Linked DNA regions of Homo sapiens. The protein of the gene in region 2 interacts with the protein of the main gene of each other region in a pairwise test. Each region holds a gene or a part of one and is shown on either strand. Other genes may lie near its edges. The genes, in order: HPX and GALNT12.

Region 1 (16,737 bases), on a different chromosome or scaffold from region 2:
CACGGATTGCTAGCTGGATTCCTTGCTTACATGCTTGTACTTTTATAACTTATGTTCTGCAAAAAGTCAGAGTGATCTTTTATAAAAAATGAGTTAGAATATATCACAGCCCTGCTCAAGACTTTCTGATGACTCCCTTTTATGGTTGAAAACCCTTACCAGGTCTAGGTAACCTGGCCACTGCCGTCCCTGCCCTTTCAAGTCACCCACCTGCTCTTTCTCTGTGTTCCAGCCTCACCAGGCTTCCTTCTTGATTCCTTGAAGTATGTGCTGCTCACCCTCCCTAAAATGCTTTTCCTCCAGCACATCGTGTGGTTAATTCCTTCTCATCACTGAAGTCTCAGCTCAAAAATCATTTCTTCAGAAGACAGCCCTCATTCTCCTCACCTCTATCCCACTATCCTGTCTTATTTTCTTTACAACCCTTAATATTACCTAAAATTATTCTCTTTCTTCCTTTCTCTTTCTTATTGTCCTCTCTCACTTTAGCAGAGCCTGTCAGGGCAGGCATCTTGTCTGCCATGTTGACTACTGTATCTCAGTGCCTAGGACAATGCCCACTTCTTATCAGATGCTCAACAAATATTTGTTGAGTAAATACCTAGTGTTCTTGCTGCTACCACAAGTTCTCTTATTAGCCGTGTACTGAGTATACAGCGGTGACTGACATATCCACCTCCCCTGGGAGGTTTCCCACTGAAATTACCCTGCTCAGGAACCATATTTATTTTATTTTATTTATTTGTTTTTTGAGACAGGGTCTCAATCTGTCACCCAGGCTGGATTGCAGAGGCACAGTCACGGTTCACTGCAATCTCTGCCTCCCACACTCGAGCAATCCTCCCACCTCAGCCTCCTGAACAGCTGGGACTACTGGTGCATGCCACCACACCTGGCTAATTTTTTGTATTTTTAGTAGAGATGAGATTTCACCATGTTGCCCAGGCTGGTCTAGAACTCCTGGACTCAAGTGATCTGCCCCCCTCGGCCTCCCACAGTGTTGGGATTATAGGCATGAGCCACCACACCTGGCCCAGGGGCCCTATTTTGAGAACCAGAGCTATGCTGCTTTGTGCAATGAAGTAAATGATGAGTTCCCAACCCATTAATGTAGCCAATACATAGGCTGGCAATCAACCACTTTAATGTGGTGTGGTCTGAAAATATGGACTGGGCCATTCAGATTCCCTCTCTGGAAATCTTACTAGGAAAAAAGAGCAACTGAGGGAGGTATCAGTTGGAACTGAGACTGAAAGATCATGAAGTAGTGAGAAAGTGGAGAGAACATGATGGTCCACGTGCAAGCCAAAGTTGTGAAGAAGCAAAGAGAATAGATAAAAACCTATGAGGGGCCAGGCGTGGTTGCTCATGCCTGTAATCCTAGCACTTTGGGAGGCCGAGGCAGGCGGATCACCTGAGGTCAGGAGTTCGAGACCAGCCTGGCCAACATGGTGAAACCCTATCTCTACTAAAAATACAAAAATTAAATTAATAAATAGTACATTGTAACCCAAAAAAAAATACAAAAATTAGCCAGGCATGGTGGTATGCGCCTGTAGTCCCAGCTATACGGGAGGCTGAGGCAGGAGGATCGCTTGAACCCAGGAGGCAGAGGTTGCAGTGAACCAAGATTGCGCCATTGCACTCCAGCCTGGGTGACAGAGTGAGACTCCATCTCAAACAACAGCAACAACAACAACAAAACTGTGAGTCAGAGAAAGAAAAATTTACCAGTGAGAGGGGAGGGACTGCCCCATGCTGTAGCTGGGTCATGTTGGTGATTTTACCAAAATAGTGCATTCTCACCTCAGCTAGGTATATATATATATATATGGGTTTTTTGTTTGTTTGTTTGTTTTGTTTTGTTTTTTGTTTTTGTTTTTTTTGAGACATGGTCTCACTCTGTCACCCAGGCTGGAGTGCAGTAGCACGATCACGGCTCACTGAAGCCTCGACCTTCCGGGCTCAGCCTCTGAAGTAGATGGGACTATAGGAACGCACTACCACACCCGACTAATTTTTATATTTTTTGTAGAGATGAGGTTTTGCCATGTTGCCCAGGCTGGTCTCAAACTCCTAGGCTCAAGCCGCTCAAGCAATCCACCTGCCTCAGCCTCCCAAAGTGCTAGGATTACAGGCGTGACTCACCACGCCCGGCCTGGGTATTTTTAATATAAGGTGTTCTCTCCATGCTGTGGGCTCTCTCAACAGCTATGGAACATACATGACATTTTTCATTTAGGAGTTCAGTAGCATTCTCATTATGGCCACATGGCCTTGAAGTTCTGTGATCTCTAGATGGCTTGGTGTCTCTCTCTATTTCTGTGTGTTTCCTGTGGCCCTGTTTTCACAATCTCTCACTCACTCTCTCTCTCTTTCTGCATTTCACTTTGTCTGTGTGTCCTCCCAATGGGCTCCCACCATGGCTGTGTGTTCTCTTGATACTTATGTGTTCTTACTATGGCGTATGTTCTCAGTTTAATGTTGTATTTTCACTACAGGTGTGTGTTTCATCTTAGCTGTATGTTCTTATTATAGTGTGCAATCCTGCTGTGGAGATTTGCTCTCCATGTGGTGATGTATTTTTCAACAGAACTTGATAGTCATAACTGGTCAAATTTGTCCAAGGGTCAGGAGCCAAAAAAATTTTGTGTGAAAAAAATATTTTCACGATTTTATATTCTTACCACTGTCCTAATTATACATATATCTCAGGTTGGATGTGATGTGGTTGCTCACTCCTCTTGGGGATATTCTCAACTGTGCAGCATGACTATTTACTGCCTGACTGAACTCAGAACAGCCCTAGGTATTATTAGATGGCTTTTACCAATTGATGCCACGGGTCAAGGGAGGGGTATCTCCATTGGCTACTCAGAGGAGAAACCTCCAGAGGCTAGTGAAGCCAGCCTCTAAAGGTCTAAAGTACCCAACACTTCTCAGCTGGTTCTCAGCAATGAGAACATCTCATCCCCAGGCAGTGCTATGCCCAGGGGTCTGGACATAGGAACCAGGAACCTGAAACAAGATGGAGTTCTGAGGATAAATCAGGGGGAGCCAGAGGACTCAGAAAGATATGCAAGAACAAAGGGAGGCAAGGAGGTACAGAGACACATAGAGGTCCAGGGAGCAAGGGAGAGCCAGAGGGCTCAGCAGGGCATTGAGCAAGGAGAACACAAGGAGTCATAGGGGCCCAGAGAGGTCCACAGGGGGCACAGCCATGGGAGTAGATGGTAGACAGGTAGATGAAGTTAGGGGCTTGGGCCGTGACAGACAAGATTGAGAAATATGCCTCAGAGATGAGGGATGCAGAAGGGCATGCAGAAGGATGGGGACAGAGGGGACAAAATAAGTGACACAGTGATGACAATGGAGAAATGTGTCAAGGATGGGAGATACAAGTAAAAGAGATGTGAGAGCACATTGGGGGAGTTGGGGGCATCTCTCACCACTGAAGGCATAGGTGGCACCATGGTTGTCAGACGTCAGTGCAGACAAGACTAGATGTGGGCTACAGCGCATATACTCAGGGCCATGGTGGGTACTGTTCCCATGGCCAGTCCCATTCCTGTGTCCATGGCCTGGAGAGAGAAATGGGTGAGGAGAACACAGAAGGAGGCCAGAGGTCAGAGTGAGGTCCAAGGTGGAAGAGATGGCTGGGGTTAGTGGGGTGTGGGTTTCCCCATATGAGGGCAATGGGAAAATCCAGAATGGAAATGGGGCTAGATTAAGGGCCAAGGTGTCGCAACACGGAGTTAAAGTGAGAGCTAGGACACGTGAGATCCACAAGCTCAGGGAAAGTGGATGAATTCTGACAGGTCTCAAGTGCTAGGGCTTTCTCACCTCTGCCAGGGCAGGGCATGAAGTAGTCTCGGACATCCCGCGGGTACCTGGGAGGCACCTCTCCCCTGACAGGGTCGAAGCGCAGGAATTGGTTACCCTGGAAGCAGTAGTAGCGGCCCAGCCATCTCAGGGCAGAGGAGCAGTTCCCAACAGCTGGCCAGGAACGCTCCTTCATGGTTCCCGTAGCCAAGTCCCAGAACCACTCGCGGTCACCTTTGTCCAATCAATCAACAGGCATTTGGTGAGACCGGGTTACGCCCTCCTTTGTGCTTTCTCTGGGTCCCAGGATGGGCCAGATAATGGTACTGACCACATGGAGCTCACAGCCATCAGAGAGATGGCTAAAGGAGGGTGATCATACACCAAAATTCAGCAGCAAAACACACAGGATCAGCTCAGCAAAGGCAGTGGGGAGAGTCTGGGAAAACTTCCCAGGGAAGATGATACTTAAAGTGAAATCTGAAGTAGGAATTAAAAGGCACACAAGGAGAGATGGAACCCCAGAGAGAGGAAAGATTCCAAAGCATGGAGCAAACTGAGTGTACAGAGAATAGCATAGGGTTTCTGGAGCTTAGTGTTAAGGTAAAAGTATAATAAAAGTCAAAGCTGAAGGGCCAATAGGGATTTGGCCATGGAGAGACTTGTATGTAAGACTAAAGAGGGTAGATTTGTCCTAAGGGTCATGGGGAACAATGAGGGACTATTCACACAGAATTACACACAGTTGCCTTCACCAGAATGACTTCCTCTCCTTCCCTCACGTGACCTCTAGACCATACGTGGCTTCTCTATTTCCCTTCCTTAAAAAGCCACATAGTGGCTCCACCACCACCATCACTACCACTATCACCATCACTACTGGCATCACTACCAACCCACCACTACTCCAGGTTCTTGGATTCCAGCCTGGACTGACCTTGGAAGAAGAGGACGCCTTCAGCTTGACATTCTCCACGGTGACATTCCACAGCTGCATCCAGTGGGGATGGGATTCCAGGAAATTCATCTTGGAGCAACTTTGGGTATCCTTTCTCCTTCTTTTCAGGAGGGTATACCCAGACTTTGTCCCCCTGCATTCAAAAGTACTCTCTTTTTGACTGTGCATCCCCAGATACTGCCACTCTGCATTTACACACATTTTTTATCTACTGTGCTTATACGATATCCTCCTGTGGCCCTACACATTCTCAGTCCATCTGTGGACAACAATGTGCTGTCCTTTTGCACATTACACACTCTCAGTTTGTGCAAATCCAGTCACTATTACTATAACACACATGCCTCTAGCTCTGTACCCAGACACTCCTGTGGCACATTTATCTGCAACACTATCAGTGTTGACAAACATATCCACAACTGTTCATCCTGCAATCACCCATACGTTATTTCTTCATTCATTTCTTCATTTATTTATTCATTCATTCATTCATCCAAGAAACAGTCACTGAATAACTACTATATGCCAGGCATTGTGAGAGGCACTGAGGATAACAAGACTCTGTCTTTCACTTCAGGAAGTTCACTGTACAAAAGCAGAAAGGACTCCTGCAATCCTAGCCATGCAACTACCAAGGTGTAGTGTAAAGAGTGCACTGAGAATATAGACAGAGTGCCTAAGTCTGCCTAGAGAAGTTGTGGAAGGTTTCACACCAAAGAGGAAGCATTGGGCCCAAGAGCTGAAAAATCAGCAGGAATTTTCCAGGTTGACAAGTGAGGAAAGGGTGTTACCAGCAGAGGGAGCAGCATGCAGAGCCCAAACATGAGGAAGCAGTGTGCTCCAACCTCATGTAGATTCGTATGGCTGGCACACAGTGAATGTGGCAGGGGAGGAGATAAACCTGAGAAGATAACCAAGGCCCAGATCATGAGACCCTGTGTGCACTTGGTTTGTAGTAATCAGGCACATTTTGGGGTCATTTACTGAAACAGGAAACACAGGAGGAAAGGTTGGTTTGTAAAGAAGATGCAAAGCTTAGTTTGGGGGATGCTGAATTTTAGGTGCCTGTAGAACATACAATTGGAAAGAGATGTCTGGAGCTCAGAAAGTAGATCTAGATCCAGTGTCCACAGCATAGATATTCCTCAGAGCCAAGGTGATGGTTGAGATCACTGAGGGAAGGTATATGGAAAGGCTAGGATGGATCCCCAAGGAACATTAGGGAACTGGTTGAGATAGAATGAGACATTTGAGAAGAGAGAGAAAAGAGGCAGGAGGGAAAACAAAGCCGACAGTCAGGACTTCCCCAACCACACAGCACCTTTGGCAAGGTAGGAAAAGGCACCCCTTCCTCTGAGCAGACACAGCCTGGGTCACATGGGACTTGGTGAGCACAGCAGACTGGATTTCATGCTCCACATGCTCTTCTAGCCAGGTGCCATTGTGTTGGGAACAACTTGCCTTGCCCTATGAAGAGGACTTGATACAGGGTCATGGAAGGCAAGGGAAGCAATTGCCAGAGAAAAAAAGGATGGCCAGCAGTGTGAGGTACAGCAGAGCGGTGTAGAACTAAGACTAGGACTGAAGAACAGCCACTGGATGGTGCACCTGCCAGGCCCACACGCATGCACACTCCCTTAGCCCAAGCTTTTACAGGAAAGGAGGGCACATGGGAAAGAAATCTGCTACCTATTGCTATGGGCTCCATGCCAAGGCCATTTGGGGGAAGGGTCCCCAGTGTCGATTCCAGCCCTTTCCAGCCTGGCCCTGATTTTGGCCCAGCAGTACCTTGATCAGAAAGACACTGTTGTGACCTTGACGGAATGCAGCATCCACAGGGCTGGGGAAATTCTTCCATCTCTCTGAGATTAACTCCCGGTCCCATTTGTGACTCTTCCACACAAACTCCCCTGAAAAAACCCACACTCACTGAGGGGCCCAGTGAGAAACCTTTGACCTACTGAGATAGCTTGAGAGAAGCTGTCAGTGATACCATCAGATAATTCCTAAGACCTCCCACAGACAGGGACACCCTTTGTGAAGGAGAGTAAGTCTAAGGTCCTAAACGCCCTAACCTCAGTCCCTCCTACCTTTAAAAAACAGCATGGTTCCATTGTCATCCAGGGTGGTAGCATCAAAGCTCCAGCCATCTGAGCAGCGTTCTGGGGTGGAGGTAGGGAGATGGCAAAGTAAAAAAAAAAAAAAAAAAAAAAAAAAAAAAAAAAAACCAGAAGGTGATAAAATGCAGAGACACAACCAGACAGATAAGACAGACTTAGGGAGTCAGGGCCTCACCAGTCACGTCTGGGTCTGGCTTGGTCTCGCCTTCAGCAACATTCCCATGGGCACTAGTCCTAGGGAGAACAAAATAGATATCTTGATCCATTGGGACCGATCCCTTTCCCATAGCCCCTGACCCCAAATTTGACCGAGGCCTAAAAACTGGCCCTACCTTACCCTAGCCCAGAACTCAATCCTTCGCTTCTAGTCCCAGCTTTACTCACGGAGGAAGAGGGGTGGCAATGGCCAGAGACCAGCATAGGCTCCACAACCCCAGTGCAACGGGTGCTCCCAGTACCCTAGCCATGCTGAGCTGCAGAGGCCACAGGACAGCTCTGGGTGACCAGTTGAACTCCCTATATAGAGTTGGCAGCAGCACCACCCCCACCTCCAACTCTACTGGGAATGTGCTGTCTCCCAGGACTAAGCCAATATTGGCTGATTACATCACTGCAAATAAGGTCAGGGTCTGGACAGAAATCTGAATCCAAGACTCCTTTTTCCCGGCAGCTGCCCCCCAACCCCCTTCAGCAATTTTCAAGCAGTAACTGGGCTACACTGCTGACGTCCAGCTGTGACTCTCACACTGGCAATGGGTCCAGGCATCCATAAGTCAGGGAAGTGAGTAGACTGAGGATCACCTTTTGTGATTGAGTTTATCTCCACAATGGGGGAGGTGAGAAAAGGAGGGAACTAATATTGCTGTGTACTGTGTCAAGCCCTGCTCTAAGGCAGCTAGAGACAGCAATACTTACTACTTTTAGTAACCACACACACAGATAAACTTACTTAGAAATACTCAGAGAACAGCTTTTTCCAAGCTTCATCAGGGGCCTTTCTGGGGCATGCCCAAGCCTCTTCAGCTTTACCCTTGGGCTAGTGAGTCTGGGGACAATAATGTCTCACTGTTGTCAAATGTCCAAGCCCCATGCCCAGCCTCTCGCCTTCCCTGACTGGCAAAGGGCTTTGCAAAAAGTGCCTGGAAGTGAAGGGTTGACAGTAATGAGGCAGAAACAGGAGGTGTCTCTCTTCCAGAGAGCACCACCACTACTAGTAATTAGTCTTTCTTGGTAGTTTCCACCTTGGGGGAAAAAGCTTTATTTAACCAACCCAGAACAAATAGAACTGTAACTGGAATTTCACAATATTTCTAGCTGACTCCTGCTTAAATGCTACCTTCTCAATGAAGCCTTTCTTGACCACCTTATCTAGCCATTTCAGACCCTTGCTTGTTTTATTTTACTTACTAAAACTTGAAATTCTTTCATCTGTCTACTTATCTGGTGATGGTTGTTGTTGCTTTGCTTTGTTTTGCCTGTCTTGTTTACCATTATATATCCCTGACTCCTAAAATAGTGCCTGGCATATAAGAGTTGTTCCAGAAATATTTGTTGAATGAAAAAAATGCAAAAATGCATTTCAAGTACTGAGTAGTGTTGCTAGTGTTGCAGCCAAATTTCTGACAATTTCCCCCCCTCTAGGGTAGGAGAATATTAGGAATTGGGGGTAGGTTATGGTAGTAGGCATAATGAGATCTAGGAGTCACAGACGCCCTTTATCTGACAGTCCTGTTTCTCTCTCCAGTGTCTCGGCCCCACATCCATCTCTTCCTGGGATCTCACCTGCTATCCTCAGTACTTCCTGGGCCCACTCCCAAAGCTGCCCCATTTCTGTGTGAGATTTGCCTAGTGAGTCAGAAAAGAATTATGGGCAGACTCAGCTATGGGCCAGGATGAAGTTCCAGGACCCCTGCTCCCTAGCCAAGGCTGAAAGGGCCCTGATCCCTCACAGATGGCTCCAGACCCCTGACAGTCCCATATATAATCTTACCAAAAGTCTCAGATCCCTTTTCTACTCTGCGAAGTTTCCTTCCAACAGGAAAACACACATTCCGGAACCTCTGGAACAACATGTCACCAGGCCTCTGCCATCAGGCTCAATGTCCTCTCCTGACTTACGAATGAAAATGTGCTGTGAACATCATTCCCTCCTCATAGGTCAGTGGGCAAGGCTGGACTCTCTGAGTCCTTGGCAGCCTGGGCAATGCCATCGCTGCTACAGCCAATGTCTCATACTCACCTTCTCCCCATTGCAGGGCATGTCTTCTTTCTGGGTGTTGGGCAATGGGAGCCACTATTCTAAGACTCCCCCTCACCTTTTCTTTCCCTCTCAGCCTCTGAAACCTTATATTCTCCCTCCTGAGCACCCCATGATCCTCCATCAGGAATTTCCTCAACAACTTGTCTTCAGCTGTCAGAACCCTGTCTGAATCCTACAGATTTTGCTGGGCCTGCCTGGGGAGAGGGAAGCTTTCACCCCAAGAAACAAACACCCCACAGAAAACCCATAGTGAGAGTCTTCAATAGTCCTATTAGCAGGGCCTTGCACTGACTTGCCAGTCCAAGGGTGCAGTCTCCTTCTGGCCTAACAGGGCTGTCTGAGGGCATACAGCACATATACTGGATGATCATTTTTCAGCTTGACCCCTTCCCCACACACCTGGTGTGGTCCCCCTCACAGCACCCCGGATCCATCTATCCCAGAATACTACTTTATGGTCCCTTTTCCCTGTTGCTTCCTAATTCACCTGTGTACCCGAGAATGGCTTAGAAACCATTACTGGATCCTCCTGCTCCACCCAGGGACTAGGCCAGCAGAGTCATCTGCACTGCAGGCAGTCCAGGTTGAAGTTCAAGTTTTGGGCAGGAGTTGAAAGTAGAACATTGTACACATTTGGGAACCCAGGGCTGTGGATATGTTGGCCACCCTGGTGTTGGTCACAGGGTACAAGCCAAGACTTCTCAGGGTAGTCAAGACTCAGCAGCCTTGCTTCTCTTCCCCTCACTACAGGAGGCCCCTTCTGTGGGTCCTGGGTCCTTCCCAGGCTTCCTACTGGGGCTGAGGAAAGAAGCTTGTCGGTACTTGGGCCTGAGCACCCCCTGCAGGCCGCAGGAATCAGTGCACTCCCGCCCTTCAACTAGAGGCCAGAGCCCAGGAGTTTTTCCTCTCTGAAACTAGCTCTCCACAGCCTTTGTCCCACACTCCTCTCAGCCCTGGCTGTGCATCCTTAGTGGTACACACCCTTCTATGCTTCTTTCCCTTCTTCTGCAAACCTTGCTGCCCAGAGTGGATTTGGGGACCTCAATCTCTTGCTTCTCTGGGAACTCGAGCCCAGAGAAATTCAACCATCTCTTTTCCTGGGTAGTCTTCTCTATCCTCCTAACCAGCAGCTTTTTTACTTCTCCCAGAAGGGGTCTGAACACGAACCTGCAAATGTCTGCAAATGACAGAGCTTCCTCCTGCATTGCCAAGAGCCAGATGTAAGCTGGACACTGACCCACTGTCCCTTGGAATGGCTATGTCTATGTCCAGCCTGCTCTGCTGTTGATATGAGTTCTCTGACCTTAGCCATTTCTCCTGGGCCCACTGAGTGCTAGGTGTGCTGGGCCTGAAGTCTGTGGCTGTATACTCCAGGGAGCAGGAACTGAATGTCTCCTTTCCTCAGGGGTAGGAGGCTTAGGGATAAAGCTCCAGGCAGCCAAAGAGCTTGCTGATCCCAGCTGACCCCTCCTCTTGCTCAGTCTATAATGGGCCTTAGTGCTATATATATATATATATAGCATGTATATAGCACTTGCTATGGTTTGAATGTTTCTGTCCCCTCCGAATTGATGTGTTGGAAGCTTAATTCCCAATGTGCCAGTGTTTGGAGGTGCGGCCTCATGAGAGGTGTTTAGGTCATGAGAGCTCTGCCCGATGAATGGATTAATGCTGCTATAAAAAGGGCTTTCAGAAGTGGATTCTCTCTCCTCTGCTTTTCTGCCACGTGATGAACAGCATTTGTCTCCTCTAGAGGATGCAGCGTTCAAAATGCCATCATAGAAGCAGAGACCAGGACCTCACCACACACCAAACCTGCTGGGCACCTTAATCTTGGACTTCCCAGCCTCCAGAACTGTGAGAAATACATTTTTGTTCATTATAAATCATCAGTCATGGGCATTTTGTTATAGCAGCACAAACAGACAAAGGTAGCACTATGAGTCCCGTTTTATGAATGAGGAAGCCAATATTAGGTATCTTAGCCAAATCACATTGCTAGCAAGTGGCAGAGCCATGATTTAAACCCTGGGTGCCTGACTCCTAGGGGTGTGTTCCTACAAGGATAGTGTGTTCTTATCAAGGGGTTCGCTGGCAAATATTTAACAACTGCTCTCTAGGGGGAAAAAGCACTGATTTGTAACATTTGCAGATTTTTGTGATATAAATACTCCTACCATGGCCAACTTTAAGCTACCGACAAGACATCACCAAATGTAGAGTTGGGAAGGGATGTACAGTAACACACTGCATACAATATTCCTACCATACAGATATGATAGATATAAATAATCACAAGAGCACAGGGGATAGTAAAATGTAGTAAAATAATTAGGAAGTGATTACTTTTAAGTACTGATTATCTTTGGTTTTAATAGAATGTATTTAAGTTTATATAGTTTGATTTTTAATAATAGCTGTGTTTTAACAACCAGCTCTCAAAATTCTAAATTTGACAATCAGCTCTCATGAGCCAGCTCCAGCACCCCACAGTCTACCATGCTGCCTTTGTGTACAGGACAAGGATCCTACCTGCTTTAGTCACTGCTATATCTTCAGCACTGAGAACACGCCTGAAATACTGTATGTATTTAATAAATATTGAATCCTATTATTCCTACTTCCTAATTATACATAAAATCTGTCCATTTCTCTCTGCCTCTTTAGTAATGCAAACACCACCTTTTCTTGTGTGACCATTGAAATAGCTCCTCTACAACACATTCTTTATAACAACCACAGTGATCTTTAAAAACGTATCTGAGATCACCTTATGCTCCTGCTTAAAATTTTTTCTTGAAGTCAGTTGTAATTTTTTTTTTTTTTCTTTTTTTTTTGAGACAGAGTCTCACTCTGTCACCCAGGCTGGAGTGCAGTGGCGCGATCTCGGCTCACTGCAACCTCCGTCTCCTGGGTTCAAGTGATTCTCCTGCCTCAGCCTCTCGATTAGCTGGGACTACAGGCGCCTGCCACCACACCTGGCTCATTTTTTGCATTTTTAGTAGAAACAGGGTTTCACCGTGTTAGCCAGGATGGTCTTAATCTCCTGACCTTGTGATCTGTCCACCTTGGCCTCCCAAATGCTGGGATTACAGGCGGGAGCCACTGCACCTGGCCGAAGTCAGTTGTAATTCTAATGTATACACAGTCTTCAAGAGGAACAGTTTAGAGAAGTTGAATTGTTTTCTGATTTTCTTTCTCAATTCTCTTCCTACCCCACAGAATCACTGCCCAGTTTAAAGTTTGTTTCACAGGGCATCCCTTTCATCCTTATCACTTAAACTTTTCAGTGGCTTACTGTCATACTCCAGACCAAATCCAAGCTCTTTATCTTAGTTAAATGATCGAAGTCAGGCCTAATTCTCCAAACTTGTTCCTTTCCTCTCTCCTTCCACCCTCCTTCCTCTCCAGTCACCCTGGCCTCCTTTCAGATTCTCAAACACATCAAGATCTCAACCCCTCAGGATGTTTGTACCTGTTTTTCCTTTGTCTGAAAATCTCTATCTCCTTTTCTTAACACAGCTAGTTCCCTACCCACCCTGCTCCAACCCTACAGGTCACTGCTTAAAGAGACTTTCCTTGTCCACTCTATTTAACACTATATTGTCTATCATTGTATTCTGTTCATTTCCTTCACAGCTTGAACTCAAATTGTTATTACACATTTAGTTCCTTGTTGCTTACTTGTCTCCCTTCTCCACTAGACTATAAGCTTAATAAGGGCAGGGACCATTTCTCTGTATTCCCAGGGCCCATTACTCTGTCTAATATTAAGTGCTCAACAAATACTTGTTCAATAAATAAATGAACCCGCAGACCACAAATGGCCATAGGGCTGTTCTGGTCACCAGACAGCCCTATATGAGCAAAGTGTGAACCCTTGCAGGACCACAAAATAACATTCTGACAGCAGGGGCTTTGCTGTGACCCCCAAATCTGTGACAATCATTCCAGACTTGGCCTCCACTGTCAGGCACTACTTTCATCTACTTGGCCCCAAGGCCTGAATTGGAAAGAAAATGCCCACCACGGCTGGATTTAGAAGGAACAGAATGACTCCACCTTGATGTACCTTTTCCATGGCATGGGAAGACTACCTAATCTGAATCTATGGAAATCAGCCCTAGCAGCCTGTTCTTGGGCTAGCAGAAGAGCCATTTGCAGCATCCCGCCCAAGGAAGGTCACCCTTACTGCCTTTTTATTCCCCTGCTACTTTTAGGTGTTCACAATGTAAACATGTGACAGGTTGAGGGCTGGAAGCTTTGAGTTTCCATTCTGTATTACTTCTGGTGCCTTGCTCAAGATAGGGGTGCAGAAAAATAGACCATCACCTGAGAGTTCTCGGGGAGGACTCCACTGGTGCTGAGCGACTGATAATTGAGCACACCATCTCGGCTGACCAGGGCATGGGCTTAGGCAATTCCACTCACAATCAGAGCCAGAGGGGCAGGCTCCATAAGAGCACCTGCACTAAAATCTTCAGGGAGCTCATCGGTCCCTCCACCTATCTATCAGGTTTCTTTTTTTTTTTTTTTTTTTTGAGATGGAGTTTTGCTCTTGTTGCCCAGGCTGGAGTGCAGTGGCACAGTCTCGGCTCACTGCAACCTGTGCCTCCCAGGTTCAAGCAATTCTCCCGCCTCAGCCTCTCAAGTAGCTGGGATTATAGGCACCCACCACGATGCCTGGCTAATACTTGTATTTTTAGTAGAGACAGGGTTTCACCATGTTGGCCAGGCTGGTCGCAAACTCCTGACCTCAGGTGATCCACCCACCTCGGCCTCCCAAAGTGCTGGGATTACAGGCGTGAGCCACTGTGCCTGGCCTATCTGTCAGGTTTCAGCTAGTGGGGCAGAGAGGACCAGGGAGGTAAGCATAACCAAGACTTTCCATATAGTCCAAGTGGGACCCCCTTGTTCTCTACAAAGCCCCCATGGTCTTCCACAGATCCATGGATAGTCCCTCTTTTCCTAGCCCCAGAATTGTGCTATACCAGATCGATGTCTTGATCTTTTCCATGACCTCTCATGATCAACTTTCCCAGATCCAACGTTCCCCAAATCTTGTTGAGTGCTTTCTCTGCCAGCCATCATGCCAGGTGCAAGGGGCATAAGGGTGAACGGGGTGCTATAACTCACCGGTTAGGAGTATGACAGCTACATATTCAAATCTGGGCTCTGCTCTTCATCAACAATATGACCTATTTCTGTGAGCTTCAGTCTTTTGTAGAGAGAGAGAGAAATCATAGTCCCTACTTGCCAAATCATCACTGAATGCTGCTTTCAATTCTCTCTGGAGATAGCAGTAAAACTCTGGCAGTCTAGAGCTCAGGAGAGAATGTGAAGACCCTAATTCCACTGCAGGGAGGGGCAGCAGTCTTGGAAATGTGAGAAAGGGGATATGTCAGGGCTCCAGGGATTCAGGGATGACTTTTAAAATTAGCCATGGAGTCTCCCACACGTAGCTACCACCTGGGCTAGCCTCAATTCCCTTGCCCAGGCTTGAACTTCAAAGATTGCTTTCATAGCCTGACACTGTTCTCTCTGCACCTACTGGCTGTGTGCTGGGCAGAGGTCATTCCCTCACCCCCCCAACCCCACAATCCTTCCCAGCCCCAGGGCAGATAGGCAAAGGACTTGCCTACTTCTGTAGGGCCTGGGGATGGGGATATGGCAGGTGGGTCAGGGTCCCATGGGTTCACCCTTTCTTGCTCTTCTCTACGGAAGTTTCAAAATATCAGGACCTGCTTGGGAAGCTGGGTCCCTTGCCTGCCTGCTTGCCCACCTTTTAGTCCAGAGCTAGTCCCACCATCCCATCTCCTCACTGCAGCCCCACCCCACAAGAACCCAGCAAAAACATCTTGGTGAAGACATTTATTTAATATGGGGGGTGGGGTATTGCTGTCTCTGTCAGTGTGTATAGGGTGGTAGGGAGACAACTAGAGGGACTCCTGTCCTGGGGTAGGCTGTTCTGGCCCCAGGCTGGGGGATGGGGAGCAGACTGACAGGGGTGGGGAGGTGTGTAAGAAGGGTAGGGTGAAGCTCTGCACACATCCTTGGGACCACAGTCCAGGCTCACCCAGTCACCAAAGCAAGAACCGAATAAATAAAGTGCAACCGTGGGGGTGGGGGTAGGAGAGGGAGGGCACCGGGTGCACCCATGCCCACAGCCCACATTCAGTGCTGCCAGGTCTGGCCCACCTCCCAGCCAGACCCTCTTGTCCAATCACCCCAATGTCTGTCCCTCCACAAGCCAGGCAGGGCCTCTGTACAGCTACTGGAGGTAGCGATAGGCTTTAAAGCAGTGGTTGCCAGCATCAGCCACCACCACATGGCCATCCGAGGTCAGTGCCAGGCCCTGTGGACCATACAGTGGTTCTGCAGATGTGTTGATATAGGACAGGAAGGAGCCAGAGCTGTCGAATACCTGGGGAAGGAGTGCAGAAAGGAGGGAGAGGCAAGATCAGGCAGATGAGAGTCTGTTTTGGGGGAACGGGCATATGGGACACACCAGGAAACCGCCCCCTCATGTCATTCCCAGGCCTTACTCACCTGGATGCGGCTGTTGCCCCAGTCAGCCACAATGATGTTTCCATTGGAGTCCACAGCTACTCCTGTGGGGGCATTGAACTGCCCATTGCCCTCGCCATGGGAGCCAAACTTGAAGAGGAACTCTCCATCGGCACTGTACACCTGGCGGGGGAAGGGGCTAGGGACTGGGGACCTGGCCTCAGGCAGAGGGTAGGGCTTTGGAGGAGGATAGGGTGAAGCCCCAGGGCTGAGAACCCCCACCCAGATCTACAGCTACAGCCCAAATCTGCTTCATAGGCTTCACATCCATGTGCCCTACTGCCTAGTAGACATCTCTTGCTGATGTCCATTGGGAATATCAAATCTAACAGCTCATTTTCTTTGGGAAATCAGTTCTCTTAGTTCTCTATCTCAATGACTGGTGCCACCCAGCTGGCCATGAGTCACTCTTGACTCCAATTTCTTCTCTGTTTGATAGGCCAATGAATTAACACAACTCTTGATTCCATCTCAAATCCCTCTCTCAAGTCTATACCCTATGCATACACTGTCTCGTCTTTCTCACGGTCCAGGCTCACATCATTTCTCATCTGGATCACTGCAAAAGATTGATCTTCCTGTCTCAGTCTTGCCTCAGCCTGAGTGATCTAAGACACACAGGACTGCATCACTCCCCTGCCTGCAATCCTGTGACTCCCCATAGCTCTTGGGAGGAGAGCAAGCCCCTTAAGGGGGCACACAAGCCTCACTCTCAGCTTTCACGGTCCCCTCCTCAAGCTGAGTCTGAACTACTTGTGATTTCTCGAACACACTATTAAGGTTCCCACCTTGCATTCTTGGCTCTTCCTGTGTCTTTTGTCTCAAACACTCTCGTCCTCCTCTGCCTTCCATTTAATTCCCACTTGTGCTTGAGGTCCTCCTCATATAGTCTTTCCTGAATCATACACTTCTGTATCCCTTCCCACAGTTCCCTGCACCTTCCTATCACAGAATCTATTACATCATATTGTAATTTTTTGGTTACCTTTTTCTCTTCCCTACTAGACTAT
Region 2 (15,816 bases):
TCAGTGAACCGCTACTGCAGTGCTTCATGAGCGTGGAGGAAATGGCCCTTCCCATGCCTGCCCAGCTTGCTAGACAGGGAGACAGGGCTGGTGCATGTCACCTCCTGCCTGCAGTGCTGAATGCTGTGTTGGTGTGGGATGGGAGGAAGGGAAATGGACCCATCGCAGCACTAGCTCTTGGGGGCTCTCTGTGACCTTGACTAGCTACTTCCTCTCCTTTTCCTCAGTCTCTCCTCCCAAACCCCCAATATGACAGTTCCTAGAAGATGTAAAGTGCTGTGCACAAGCAGACAATGTGACCGCTAACGGGAAGACTTGGTTCTTCCCGGACAATGGTTTTCCTACCTGAGTGTACTAGGAACTACCTACAGTGACTGTTAAAAATGCTGATTGCTGGCCCCATCCCAGAGACGGAATAAGGATTCCTTATGTGTGAGGTGGGGCCTAGGAAGCTGCATTTTCTGCATCTTTGACAAGACACCCACCCACCCCACCAGCCCCTTTCAAAAATTCTGACACAGGTGGGTGTTCTTAAGGCGCACAGAGCAGGGCTTGTCACACCATTATCTCCTGAAAAGCTGCTTAAAACAAGAGTCTGGGATTCGGTAGTGTTGGGATCAGTCTGAAAATGTGCATTTCCAAGCTCCCAGATGATGCTGATGGTAGCACTCAGGTACCATCAGCTTTGAGGAAGGCTGTTCTAAACAGTGTTGAAAACCTAAATAATTTAAGGTTGCAGGGGTTGGAATTAAGAAAGTTTACTCTTGACCATAAGAAGGCCTCATATTCAAGTGGCATTGGGGTGAATCCAGATTGGAAAAAACAACATCTGAATCTCTATCCCTTTGTTTCCTGGTGTCTGATAACTCCTTGGTACGGTGAAGCTTCAGAGGCCCAGAACCAACACTTCTCTCCATTCCTGCATCCTCCAAGGGTCCTGTCAACTGCTTTCCAGGGCTGGGGGTCCTTTTCTGGTCTTCAGACTCCCCCAGGACTGAATCTCCCCTGCCCAGCCTGAATTACAGCCCTTCACCCAGACAGATACACCTGGCCCCCAGCTGAGGCAATGTCCCTAAACACCACCTTGCAAGGTGGCCCTATGCATTAAACCTGTCATTCCACTTAACAATTAATTCTAAGGAAATCATCTGAAATGCAGATCTGTTACTTTATCCTTCCTTCTGTCTGACCCAAGGTGTTAGAGGCAGGGTTATTTATAATTGCAAAGACAGGGAGGCAGGGAACCAGTTAACGAAACAGTAATACAGGTACAAAATGAAATATCAAGTGGCCACTAGGAATGATATTCTCAAGGGGTATCTAATAACATAAGAAAAGTAGATGAAGGGAATGGAAATAATGGAATATAAAACATACAGACATTATGACAACTATTTACAACACATAATCTCTGTGTGTTATGTGTAAAAAATGATGGGAAGAAAACACATTTTAATTTTAACAGTGGTCTCTCTGAGTCTGGCCACCCTAGGCTTCTACTTTTTATATTTCCCAAATATTACTTTTACAAGAAAAAAATTCAACTATTTAATTTTTTTAACAAAACACACAGCTTTCTCCTCTTTTGAGGCTCATACCTACCTGATTCTGGCCCATCCCATGACAGAGGTACAGAATGACCTGGTGTCCCACAATCTGGTTTTCATCGGGAGGGTTATAGTCAAAGCAGTAGTCTGTTAGTCCTTTGTTCTGGAGCTAAATAAAACATAAATGTGGCATTTCAGTCCAGATTTATAGACACTAACAGATGCCACACAAGGCTTGGGGAGGGTACCTGGCATGAGAGGAGAGCCTGCTTCAAGAGCTAGACGCAAAGGTAAGAGTCTTTTCTGTACAGCACCTTCTAGCTTTAAAAGTGCTTCCTTGTTCTGCAGGCAAGAATCCTTACCCCTATTTTAAGTTGATAAGCCTGAGGACCAGAGAGATAAACTCTTCATGGCCTGAAAGCTCCTCTCTCTTTCTTTCTCATTAGTAGCAGCCTTACTGCTGTGCAAGTCCAAATATACCTGGGTTGATACCTCGAACTAGATTAATTAAGCTAACTAAATCAAGCAGGCGATAGACACAAAGAAAGAATTATTTTAGGCTGGGTTCAGTGGCTCATGCCTGTGATCCCAGCACTTTGGGAGACGGAGGCAGGTGGATCACTTGAGGCCAGGAGTTCTAGACCAGCCTGGCCAACACGGCAAAACCGCATCTCTACTAAAAATACAAAACTTAGCCAGGTGTGGTGGGGTGCACCTGTAGTACCAGCTACTTGGGAGACTGAGGCGGGAGAATCACTTGAACCCAGAAGACGGAGGTTGCAGTGAGCTGAGATCATGCCACTGCACTCCAGCCTGGGCAATAAGGCAAGACTCTGTCCTCCCCACCACCAAAAAAAAAAAAAGAATTAATTTAAATCACTTTAGAGCATGGTATGTTTGAAAATACCACCTATGAAATATATTCTATAAACAAACTGAGCTGCAAAGAAATTATAAACCTCATTCAGTATAATACTCTAAGCTGTAGTACTGTATTAATTATCTTGAAACTATTTTCAATATATTTTAGGATAAAGAAAATAAGTAATTATGTTAATATTGTTTAAAACCAAGATTTTCAGGGTAAGAAAAAAGAAATATGAGTATGCTATCAAAGAAAATTTTTCAAGACTACATTGGATTTTCAGATATTAATATAAGCTCATGATCTGTTTCTCAAAAATACGAATTTCCTTTCTCTGCCCAATGAGAAAAATTTAGAGCTGTGCTATTTCATGTGGCGGCCACTGGCCACTGTGGCTACTGGACACTTGAAATGTAACTAATCCAAATTGAGATATGCTATAAGTATAAAATTCACACCAGATTTCAAGGCTTAGTATGAAAAAAGAATGTAAAATGCCTCAATGAATAAATACTTATATTAATTATATGTTGAAATGATATTATTTGGGATATACTGAGTTAAACATTTCATTAACTTTACTTTTTTTTTAATATGGTTACTAAAAAAATTTAAGTTACAACGGTGGCTCTCATTATATTTCTGTTAAACTGCATGGTCTGGAGGCAATGACAACGCATAGCAACGGGCACCGCCAGCATCCAGACTGACTCCCAATACCGTTACCCAACAAAGGAGCAGGGCTTCTGGGAGGAATGGCAGGAAATGTTTAAAACTCGAATGGGACAACTTGGCCAGAATCAAGGAGGCTATCAACGCCACTGTAAGGTGTCAAAGACCTCAGAAGCCAAAATAAAGGGACTCCCACTGGCCAAAAACAATTTTCATATATTTTTTAAAAAGATGAATTGGGCTGGGCACAGTGGCTCATACCTGTAATCCCAGCACTTTGGGAGGCCTTGGCAGGAGAAATGCTTGAGCTCAGGAGTTCAAGACCAGCCTGGGCAACATAGCGAGACCTTAGTCTTTACTAAAAATAAAAATAAAAAATTAGCCAGGTGTGGTGGTGCTCACCTGTAGTCCCAGCTACTTAAGAAGCTGAGGTGGGAGGATCACTTGAGCCCAGTGATCCAGGCTACAGTGAGCTACAATGGTGCCACTGTGCTCCAGCCTGGGTGACAGAATAGAAGCCTGTCTCAAAAAACAATACAAAGAAGAAAAGATGAATTGATTGAAGCACACCGGCTATTTAAACACCCATTAGTTTACAATGACACTCAAGAAGAGAAAAAGCCAAAAAAAACAATGAGCCACAACAAAAAAAAAAACAACCCAGTAGATACAACTGGAGGAAACTAAAATACCAACTCTTACTCTGAAAATAAGCAAATAAAGAAAAGACTTAAGAATTTGTTATGCCTTGGCCGGGCATGGTGGCTCATGCCTGTAATCCCAATAGTTTGGGAGGCTGAGGCAGGCAGATCACCTGAGGTCAGTAGTTCAAGACCAGCCTGGCCAACATAGTGAAACCCCGTCTCTGCTAAAAATACAAAAAAAAAAAATTAGCCAGGCATGGTGGCAGGTGCCTATAATCCCAGCTACTCGGGAGGCTGAGGCAGGAGAATTGCTTGAACCCATGAGGCAGAGGTTGCAGTGAGCTGAGAGCGCGCCATTGCACTCCAGCCTGGGGGACAAGAGCAAGACTTTTCTCTCAAAAAAAAAAAAAAGAATTTGTCGTGCCTTTTCTGTATGAATTCTAAAACTCACATATACCAAATTGCTTTAGTTAATGAGGGAGTGTTCTTCTTTATGAAAAATTTCAGCTAATAAATGTGGAAGAAATGAAAGAGAAAAATCACCATTTGGCAACTCCATTTGAAATAATGGGCCTAGGCAATGGTTATCAGTGGCTACTAAAAACATGAGACAGAGGCTGATGGGGGTCTTATAATGACTGGTCCAGGTGAGGGATACTCCATTAACCCACTGGTCAACCTTATCACTAAAGATGACCATACTTCCTATGCTCCTGATATGACACAACATGAACACATAACATCACCCACAAAGTGTTCTTGCCAAAAAGGTGGATCCTGACTCTAATCAAACCTTTAGAACTCACTTCTATCTTAAAGAAATATGGGGGAGAGAGGCACAACTTGAAGACACCACAAAGAAAAAAATAGCAATTGCAAGAGTGAGACACTCCACAGGTAACATATTGTTTTTTCAACAAGTTAAAGATATTAACAAGAAAAAGGAAGAGGGCTGCCTTAGATTAAAAGAGATTTAGGAGACAAGACACAACCATCACATGCAATGTGTGCACCTTGTTTGGATCCCAATTCGAATTAGCCAGCCACTCAAAGAGAAACTGGAAAAGTTGGGGGAATATGTATTAGAACTAGACATTAAATGATACCAAGAAATACTTGTTCATTTCTACGGTTTTGTAAGATAATGTCCAAATGTTATGAAAATGCATAAAATGCAGAGGAGAGAAATGACACAATGCCCGGGATTTGCTTAAAAAGAGGAAAATGTGGAGGTGAAGTACAGGAGAGAGAAAGAGATAAAGAGAGGCAGGATCTTGAAAATTCTAGAATCTCAGGGATGGTATTCATTATACCATTCTCATACCATTCTCTCTGCATTTCTATATGTTTGAATATTTTCATAATGAAAATAGAATGTAACATGAATATCCTGCTTTATATGTATCAAAGACTTCTAGAATGGAACACCAGCACTTCTGATCAACACATCACAGCAGAGGAGACCTTGCTAAGCTGGTGTCATTCCCAGCAAAAACAAAAGACACTGGACATTTTATCTGGTCTCATCCCAAAAACATTTTTTAGGTTTTTTGAAATACTCGAAGTGACTCCCCTATACCCACTATTGCCTCTGTAGACTTCCAAACTTGGAATTATTAACTAGTCCAGCCATTGAGACTAGAAGTAATATGATAAGGCGTTGGTAAAAACTAGGACATGGAAACACCAGATAAGCCTCAGTTTCCTTACCTACAAAATAGTTGTCAATTTTGAGATGGCTTCCAGCTCTGACATTCTGCACCTACGGCCCAGACGCTCACAGGGAGAAAGAAGGGCAGTGGATAAAAAGGTGGTGGGGGGTGGGCAGGCGGGTGGGAGTGGAGGAAGCCAGTGCTCCCCATGACGTGGCCTTTCTTGCCCAGGATTTGCAGAGCAGACCCAGAGGCCAGGGAAGTCCCTGCCTGCCGTGGGCCCACCACCCTCACTCACCATCCCGAAGAAGCCAGGCCTGTCCTCAGGCACATGCAGTTCTGGATACACAGTCTCCAAGAACCACTTGAAGTCTTTACACTGGAGCTTGTCCCGGAGCTGCTTCCTCTCTGTCACATCCCCAAAAGGTTCCTGAGAAAACAACAAAACAGTGAGACCCCATGGGTCCTAGTGCTTCCTTTCAAAGCCCCTGTGTTCACTGATGCTCACTTACTAACCACCAGCCAGCTTTGATGGAGCATTCGTCGCATGCCAGGCCCTGTGTGGAGCACAGAGGATAGAAAACATCCTTGCACCTAATTCTAGCTTCTAGTATGAGAGGCTGTCACACAGACAATTCCATTCCTAGGTGCTCTGTTGGCAGGGGGGTGTGACCAGGTGCACAAGGGTAGAGGACAACCCGCCTGCTGATGGAGTGAAGGAGCCAAGCCCTGGGGCTGCACTGGCATCTATGGATCCCGGACCTGTGACCCATGCTTGTGATCAGAAGTCATCCTGAAACCCAACCAGGGAAATGTCAGTTTCACCGAAACATATGCCATGACTTTCTGGTTTACTACTAATATCTGAATATCCACTTTCAAACACAGGTAAATATTCTAGATGTAATCATGTTCTCAGTATGAAATAAGCAAAAAGAAATACTTATGCAAGTTTGGTTTTATGGGCAAAACTAATGACTGAGAGCTTTTGAATAATTAAATACAGCAAGCCTCTATTTAGTATCGCAAATGTGCAGCCACAAGAAAAATGCTGAGTGCAGAAATATTACCGTACCTGCACTGTCATGTTAAACAATTAAAAGCTGACAAGTTAAATATTGAACAAAATGGTAATAATAAGTACATGTTTGAATAAGATTTCAGATTTCTGCTATTTCCCAGAGTTCTTTCACTGGTGAAAGTCACTGCGCCCCCAGCTTCAGCCAAGTATCCATTTAGCACTTGGCCTTGGACATGAAGCCTAAGGGTGCATTCAGTGCCCCCCTAAAATATTCTCTGGGAACCCTCAGGAAAAGGGAACTATGGGTTCCAGACTGTGCATGAGGAAAGAGTGGGTGTTTCTACTCTATGGTGCTGGGCAAGACGGAGGAGGCAGAAGCAAATGACCATGGAGCCCAGAGCCAGAGAGGGGCTGAGTGGGAGTCCAGCTGAGAACCCATGGGCTCTGCAGAGCAGAGCAAGAGGTGCGCTGCAGAGTACAGGCCCCAAGCCCAGTTCTACCTCCTATCAGCCACAGGGCCTGGACAAGTTCCTTCCAACAGCGTCTCTCTGAGCTTCAGTTTTCTCATCTATAAAATGAGAATTTTATTGCTACCCTGCAGGGTTGCTGGAAGGACTCAGAAGAGACTTCCATGAAGTGGCCTGATGAGAAGCCTTAGAGCAAGACCTTCTTGTATTGCCAAGCAGCCCTACTAGTTATGCAAATGCAGGGCAAGCAGGCACCCTGCCATGGAGCATGCAGAGCTGGCTGGGGCAGAGGCAGTGGACTGTGTTTCATCTGAAGCCCAAGACCTGGGAAAGAAGAGGCAGATCCCTCATCCACAATGGTCCCGGAGGTAGAGGCAGAGCAAGGATCCGGACCAGAAAACAAGTCCCTGAGATAAATCGCTATGAGGAAGGACACAGTCTGGGCTGAACCTCAGCCTCCGACAGACTCAGTGCAGTGGGTGGATGGGCCAGTGTCCCTGTAGTGTGTGGCTGAGACCCAGGGGAGCAAGCCAACTGAGCTGAGACTTCAGTGACTGCAGGCACACCTTCACCATTGGTCAGAGAGATGGGCCCAGCAAGGCCTCTGAGTGGGGAGGAAGATAGACATCTGTTAGGCTGGCGGTGGGGGGGTTTCCATGACCATGACATATGGTGAGAAAGAGTAGCAGCGGGGGCCTGGGCCACTCTCCAGTAGTCCTTCCATCTGGAAATGGAAGCAGAACAGACTCCCTGTTTTAGAAAAGGAAGCTTCCAGGGTGCTAACAAGAAGGCTCTAGAGGGAGGTAACAGACCCCTAACTAATAAGGCGGATGTGTCCCTGAGCAATAGCTTTAAGGTAAAGAACTGTGCCTTAACTTGTACCCTGTGTTTGTGGACTCACCCTACTGGCTACAAAGAGGAAAACCAAAACACATGGACAATGCCTGGCCTGTGACACCAGGTATCCCCAACTATCTATGTTGGTACAGTCCATCCTCATTATTTACTGGTTCTGTATCTGAATTTCCCTACATGCTATAATAAAATTGATTTGTAACCTCCAAATCAATACTTGTGGTGTTTTCTAATTTTCACACACATTCATGGACAAAAAATTTGAGTTGCCCAACACTTAACTCCCATTTCCAGGTGATATATAACAAGGGCACACACCGCCTTCTTGTTTCAGCTCTCATCCTGTAAACCAGTGTTCTTTTCACCATCTGTTGGGCACCACATTTTTTCCTGCTTTGTATTGGTGACTGCACCAGCTATTCTAGAATGTCCCCCAGTCGTAGTGCTGAAGTGCTACCTAGTGTTCCTAAATGCAAGAAGGTTGTGATGAAGAGAAAATAACACGTGCTAGGTAAGCTTCATTCTGGCATGAGTTACCGTGCTGTTAGCCATGAGTGCAATGTTAATGATGCAACGATATATGTTAAACAGGTGTCTTTGAACAGAAACACATAGAAAACAAGGTTCTGTATTGATCTGCTGACAAAACTGTGCCCCAAGTCTGGCAGGAACCTAACCCTGTATTTCCCCTAAGAACAATGGCTCTGTTTTCATGAATTCAGCATTTGTGGTGGCTTTATGCACTATAACAGCTGTAAATAAGAAGATTTGACTGCATATAATTATTATAAATGGAGGAATAAATTCTCCCCTTACTCGTATCTGAGCACCCAATTTATTCTCTATTTCTGGAACCAGATCGACTATGTTGGGGAAGCCACGATTAGCTGCTGTTGTTCAGATGAAGCCAGATGGAGTGCAGGTGGGCCGAGGAACTCACCAAGCGGGCACGGGGGTTGCGATGGTAGTAGAGCTCTTTAAATTCATCCATCCATACTTCAGCTGCACGAACACTGTTGGCCAGAGCCTTGTTGCGGGAGTAGGGAGCTTGCTTGGGGAAAACATGGCCAACATGGGAACATGGGTGTGTTTCCAGAACCCCACCACACTGCCAGATCTGCACACAGAGAAAAGGAGAGGCCAGGTGGTGAGCAGGGGATGAGCTGCGGGTCCATAGTATCTGCAGCAAAGAGGCCAGGCACACGCAAGGCATGATGGACACTGCCAAGATGCTCAGCCTCCATCGGGCAGGAGGCCACCTACCCGGCACACTCATGACACAGAATGTGGGTAAAGAGCAAGAAAGCAGCCCCCAAAACATATAAGCTGTGGGAACCAAGACCCCAAAGTCCATGCACTAAAGCTCATGCACTTGACTCACAGGAGCATCCACAGAGACCTCGCTGGCAACCCACTTACTCATTACAGAAAACACAGGCTTGATTACCTGATCTCCTAGCCACAGAAGATAGGAAAGCAGCAAGGAAGAAAAGAGGTTTGGAAGGGGGAAAGGAAGAGCGTCTAGAAACAGGTAGAGCAGCCTGACACCTAAGGAAGAGGCAGAGAGACCATTAAAAGCACACCCAAAGACTCAACAGGCGAAGGCATCTGAGCCCATCTCACACTGGGACTGACAGCCTTGAATATCTCATTTTCCCAAAGATGGGACAACCAAGCACAGCATCTGGTACTTATTACAGAGGGCGTGAGTCCTCGGTAGAAGGCCAAATTCTTGTTTATTCAGTTTTTATGAGGGCAGAACACCATATAAAATATTATTAAAAATCTTAATTTTCCACTGAAAAGCACCAACATTTACACAAAGTTTTGATGCTTAAAATGTAAGACTTCATTAACTGGAAAATCTACTGAAATGCTAGGAGTTTTCCAATACGGTTTTCACGGGCCATGTAGAGTAGCATCAGTAGGAAGGCTTGTTACAAAAAGCAGAATCTTGGTCCCACCCTAAAGCTATCAAATCTAGCTAGAATTCTAGATTGTGCTTGTGAATCTGTCTTTCTAACAAGTTTACCCAGCAATTCTTACATGTGTTGGCTGGGTGCAGTGGCTCACACCTATAATCCCAGCACTTTGGGAGGCCAAGGCGGGTGGATCACCTGAGGTCAGGAGTTTGAGATCAGCCTGGATGACATGGTGAAACCTCGTCTATACTAAAAATACAAAAATTAGCCGGGCATGATGGCACATGCCCATAATCCCAGCTACTCGGGAGGCTGAGGCAGAAGAATCACTTCAACACAGGAGGCGGAGGTTGCAGTGAGCTGAGATCGTGCCACTGCGCTCCAGCCTGGGCGACAGAGCGAGACTCCGTCTCAAAAAAAAAAAAAAGAAATTCTTACATCTGTCAAAGTTTGAAAGGCACTGTGCTAAATAAAGAGGCCACTTCATAAGGAATTAATCAAGTAAAGGCTCCAGAAGACAGGATCAGGAGGAACCTAACCCTGAGCAAGTCACCTCTCTCCTGGTTTCATTTCCTCCTCTCCATAGAGTGAGAGAGAACTATGTGACTCGCAAGGCCCTTGCTGGCCCCAAATCTAGAAAAAGTACACTTTTTAAAAAGCTAAAACAAGAAAGCAAGCATGTTTATAGGATATGCGTGTCATCATCTTTCAGGGTCCACCAGGCTCTTACAGCAAATCCCATCGTTCCCAAAGAGAGAATCAGTTAAGAACATGTCCAAAGAGAAGACTGAAATACTTACCCTAAAGGAAAATTCGAGGTTTTCTCCTCCCCAAACTTCCATTCCTGTATCATAAGACCCCAGATATTCAAAATATTTCTTACTCACAGCAAACAGCCCACCAGCCATTGTTGGAGACCTAAAAAAGTATGATATCCTTATTTCACTGTAGACAGCAGAAAACCATCACAGTTATCCAACTACCTTCCCACCACGAGCCCTTTCATCTGTTCATCTGTCATCTCTAAGCATATCCCGCCTTCACCTCTGTGCCCCACACTAGGCTGGGCCTGGAGGCATAGATGTACCCTACGGTCCCTGCCTTGAGGTGGCTCCCAGGCTTCTCAGCAGGTAAGTACTATGTGTGTGCTAAATATGTTAACTAAGGTCAGCCAGGGCCCTGGGAGAACACTGAGGAGGGCAGGGGCAAAAGGGCAGGACTAGGTTCCCTGGAGGAAGCAAGGTCTGCAGGACAAAGGACAGTTAGCCAAGAAGAAGAAGGGAAATGGAATGGTTCTCCAGCATGAGCAAAGGCTTAAGGGTGGGAGAAATCCAGGGACATTTAGAAGCATAGAGAGCAAGGAGAAGAGAGAAGCAAGAGACCACGTTCCGAGAAGAAGGCAGGCTCCAGGCCATGGTCATCTGAGGAGGTGTGATCTCACAAGGCAGGCACTCACAGATGCCACTCAGAGGCCAGTATGCAGAAGGCCCTAAAGGCAACTCTGGCATCTGAAAGTGCCCCGAGGGCCAGGTCCTCTTGAGTGGTTTCCTCCACTAGGACCCAGCTAGCCAGCCTCAGGCTGCTTTTTCAGCCAGCCTTGTTTCCCGCCACCCACCACCAGGTTTATCTGGAAGCCAGCACTAACCAGAAACGGCCCACGGCTTCCAGCCTACACGGCAGAACACTGTAAGGTCAGCACGTCCCAGAGTTGCACAGGCAAAAGGATGAATTCAGAAATAGGGAAAGGGCTGGGCACGGTGGCTCATACCTGTAATCCCAGCACTTTGGGAGGCTGAGGCGGGCAGATCTCCTGAGGTCAGGAGTTCAAGACCAGCCTGGTTAATATGGCGAAAACCTGTCTCTACTAAAAAAATGCAAAAATTAGCTGGGTGTGGTGGCCCACAGCTATAATCCCAGCTACTCAGGAGGCTGAGGCAGGAGAATCACTTGAATCCAGGAGGCAGAGGTTGCAGAGAGCTGAGATCATGCCACTGCACTCCAGCCTGGGTGACAAAGCGAGACCCCAACTTGAAAAAAAAAATAGGGAAAGAGAACATTGAGAGCGCAACCACTGAAAATGTTAACATCCTGCAGCATCGGGGCCTGCCCTGGACTCCAAGCATGGGGCCAACTGAGAAGACAACAGCAACATCCCCAGTGGAAGGGAAGGTTCTAGACTACAAAGCACCTTCACGTGTGTTTATCCTAAAAATCTAGGAAATAAGCAGGGTGGATATGCTGGTACCTATTATACAGATGAGATAACTGAGGCACAGGGATATTATGGGATGGGGAGGATAGGTGCCCTGAGCATGTGGGGTAACGGGGCAATTAGAATTCATGGACCCCCATGAATTCATGACAGGCTGCCTAAGTAGCCTAGATTAGAGCCTCCTGCTCTGTGTCTCAGTTTCCAAACCTATTCAGTGAGGGATTGAGCAGGATGTTCTCACTAAGGGCTCCTACAGAAGCCTGGGTGCCATTCTTAATTCCTTCCTTCCCCAATTCCCACTCAATTTCTTCCAATTCTTCCATCTTAACATCTCTGGAATCCACAGTGCCCACCATCTCCTGAACCATTGTTTCTGACCTGGAAGACTGCAGAGCCTCCTAATGGTATCCCTGCCTACAACGGTCCCCCCAGGGCCCTCACCACATGGCACGCAGCACATGCTCAGGTCACTTCCTGCTCCGATCCCTTCAGTGGCTTCTACCTGCTCAGGGTCAAGTCCAAACCCCTTCCCTTGGCCCCGCCCATCTCTCCAGCCTTATCTCTGGACACTCTCCTTGCTTGCTCCACTCCTGCCAGCAGCGGGTCATCTTAAGGTCAGGACTCTGGTGAAAGAATTCAGAAGCCCAACTGCCAAATGTGGACGCAAAACTCAGAGCCTACTTCCGGTTCAACACACCAGCGGTGAGGCTGAAGTCCTGACCTCCTCCTGCCCAACTCCCACATCTGTCTCCCACTTGCTTCTGAACTTGGAAGGGGAGGAAGAAGCCAGGCTATCACTTCAAAACCTCCAGAATGAGAGCTGCTGAGCCTCCCTTGGGCCCATTCTACTCAGAGCTTGACTCACCCACTGGCCAGAGCAGACTCCTCCACCTGCCATGGATCCACCCACACCCCAGGTCAAAGGGGCCTAAAGATGTTTCCTCAAGAATGAGCATATGACCAGCAATCCCACTCCTAGGTGTATACCCAAAAGAATGGAAAACAGGGACTCAAGCAGATAAAAGTACACCGATGTTCATAGCAGCATTATTTAACAATAACCAAAGGACAACCCAAGTGTCCACCAACAGAAGAATGGATAAACAAAATGTAGCATATATGTACAAAGGAATATTACTCAGCCATCACAAGGAATGATGTTCTCTAGGAAACTTGAAAACATGATGATAAGTCAAAGAAGCCAAGTACAAAAGGACAAATATTGTATGATTCCACTCACATGGGGCGCCTGAAAGAACAGAGGTTCCCAGGGGCTGGGAAGGGGAGAATGGGAAGTTATTGCTTAGTGGGGATATTTTCTGTGTGGGATGATGAAAAATTCCTGGAAATAGGTAAAGATCATGTTTGCACAATACCGTGAATGTGCTCGATGCCACTAAAATTGCATGCTTTGTTTTATTTATTTATTTTTTTATAGAGACAGGGTGTCACTCTATCGCCCGGCTGCAGTACAATTGCGTGATCATAGCTCACTAAAGCCTTGAACTCCTTGACTCAAGCGATCCTCCTATCTCAGCCTTCCAGCTAGCTAGGCCTACAGATACACACTAGCATGCTCAGCTAATTTTTATTTTTTTGTAGAGATAGGTTCTTGCTATGTTGCCCAGGCTGGTCTCAAACTCCTGGACTCAAGCAATCCTCCCACCTTGGCTTCCCAAAGTACTGGGATTATAGGCATGAGCCACCATGCTCAGCCTAAAATTGCATACTTCAAAATGGTTAAAATGGTAAATTCTCTATGATGTATATTTTACCACAATTTAAAAATTAAATAAATAAAATATACCGATATAAAATTGACATGTGTAGCAGACACGTTTAATAAAAATAAACAAATACTCTGGGCAAAAAAGTGGGAAGAGGGGAGGTAGTTAAGCTGACAGCTAACCATTCCTCCCGAGGGCCTCCGCTCACAGGTCAGCCAGATTCAATGAGGCATGCTTAAAAAACAAGTCACCCAGAAGTCAGCTCCTGACCTGATGACATCGACGGGGGATTGCATCCGTATCCTCTCCCTCTCAGGAACTGTGTGCCACGTGAACACCAGCCTCCAGTCGAAACCGCCGATCTGGGGCTCCCCGGAGTTCCCCAGGTATTCGAAGGTGTTCCAGTCGATCACATCAATCACCGGGCACACCACTGCCGACTCCTCTTCATGGATCCTGAAAGCACCCAAGACATCCATCCGTCTCTCCTATGCAGACGGGCAGCAGGAAGACAATTGGGAAATTCAAGGGTGAATTCTTGTCTTCCTTCCAATAAGAGGGAGGAACATCTGAGAAAGACCTGCTTCTCTTATTCCAGGTGTCTGCAGCCGTGTCAGAGCCCTGGCAGGTGACCACCATGGGGGAGATCTGGGGGCCACGGAGGGCTTTAAAACAAAAAGTCCCATGACTTTAATATGCTCTGATTCTATCCATGGACATTCTGACCAAACGCTCTATGATTTCAATTTCTCAGAAGTGCAAGAGGTTTAATCACAATGAAACACCTTAACATCAAGAAATACTTATCTCCTAAGAACAAAGGTGCACCCAGACCAAAGGGTCAGCTTTGGAATTAGAATATAAATTCTAATCCTGCTATTTATTTGTTGTGTGACATTAGCCAAGTCACCTAACTTCAGAGCCTATTGCCTCAGTGGTAACACTGGAATTATAATATCCATTCAGAGGGTTAATGTGAGGACTTCCTGGGAAAATGTTTTTAAGATAGCTGGCAGAGAACCTGAAACTATTGCTATTTTTTTATTTTAATGTTTGTTATTGTGAAATATTACATATAGTGAAAAATGCTATAATTTCCTTTTGCAGGTATCAGCCTGTGTGTTGGCTTCAACGGTTCTCTCCACATTATTACAAATCTGGCCATCCCTCAGCATGCTTCCAGGCCGTGTTTCTTTGCATTTGCCACTACACCAGGAAAGATGGACTGAGACTAGACCACGTGTGAACACTAGATTTCCTTGAGTACATTTTGGGGGACGTTGTCTGGAATTTGAGACCTAAAAATCCTAAGAGTCCTGCCACACAGGACAGTGCAACAGAGATCAACCAGACTTGAGCTTTCGGTGTCCTTAGAATGACACCAGAAAGTCAGAGGGGATATTAGAAATACCACTCTGGGGTAAGAATTACAACTATCGGGAAATTGCACTGTTCAGAACAGGTTGCGTGAGACAGGGTCTTAGATCTGTGAGTTCCCCAAATTGAGGAAGTTGCATACTAGGTATCCACCAACATCCGCTTATTTAAAGCAATTGAGGGCATTATTTAAAAGGTTGAAAGGGCCAACATCAGACCTGCTGGGCAAGTTCTAGCTGGCCCCTGGCAAAGGCCAGCTCCCCCAGGAACTGATGGCTTGTGATCAAGCTGGCTGGAACCACAGAAAGCCTAATTTTTACAAGGAGGGGAAAACTAGGGGAATGCTGTACCAGCATTGGAGTATAGGACTCCCAGTCGTGGCTGGAGAATGTGCAGGACCCACAGGGATGCTATTGGCATCTGGGCCAGAACCATTCTCCACTGAACAGGGCTGATCTGCAGGATACTTGGCCTCCCTGATACACAAAATGCCAGGAGCCCTACCTGGTTGACATGACAACCAAGAATACCCTCCCACATTTCCAAAAGCCCCTGGATGGAAAGGGTTACCACTCCTGTCTGGGGCCACCTTAGGGAGAGTCCACAGTCTGATGTGTCCCAATGCTCGTGCACACCAAAGTCCCCTGGGGAGCTTTTGAAACATGCAGAAGCCGAGGCCCCAGCCCCAAGAGTTAGATCCAAATGGGACCAGGCATTGGTGTGTTTAAAAAGCTCCCCAGGTTGAACCCTCACACACCGTTGGTGGGAATGTAAATTAGTACAACCTCTATGGAGAACAGTTTGAAGGTTCCTCAAAAAACTAAAAATAGAGCTACCATATGATCCTGCAATTCT

The links.
Region 1: the proteins of GALNT12 (region 2) and HPX interact in binary tests that used the Homo sapiens proteins (3 or more experiments, as listed by UniProt).

Annotation. Positions count from the first base shown.
Region 1 is NC_000011.10:6,433,597-6,450,333, forward strand, and holds the start of HPX (hemopexin precursor), read right to left. Parts: upstream 7,392-16,737; 5' UTR 7,368-7,391; coding exon 7,285-7,367; intron 7,135-7,284; coding exon 7,076-7,134; intron 6,943-7,075; coding exon 6,871-6,942; intron 6,691-6,870; coding exon 6,569-6,690; intron 4,914-6,568; coding exon 4,760-4,913; intron 4,057-4,759; coding exon 3,844-4,056; intron 3,582-3,843; coding exon 3,450-3,581; intron 1-3,449. Other genes in the region: TRIM3 (tripartite motif-containing protein 3), read right to left, coding at 15,432-15,584, 15,710-15,850. UniProt on the Homo sapiens protein: Binds heme and transports it to the liver for breakdown and iron recovery, after which the free hemopexin returns to the circulation.
Region 2 is NC_000009.12:98,829,996-98,845,811, reverse strand, and holds part of GALNT12 (polypeptide N-acetylgalactosaminyltransferase 12), read right to left. Parts: intron 14,073-15,816; exon of another isoform or gene 14,064-14,072; coding exon of another isoform or gene 14,041-14,063; coding exon 13,855-14,040; intron 10,564-13,854; coding exon 10,446-10,563; intron 8,841-10,445; coding exon 8,664-8,840; intron 5,811-8,663; coding exon 5,679-5,810; intron 1,717-5,678; coding exon 1,603-1,716; intron 1-1,602. UniProt on the Homo sapiens protein: Catalyzes the initial reaction in O-linked oligosaccharide biosynthesis, the transfer of an N-acetyl-D-galactosamine residue to a serine or threonine residue on the protein receptor.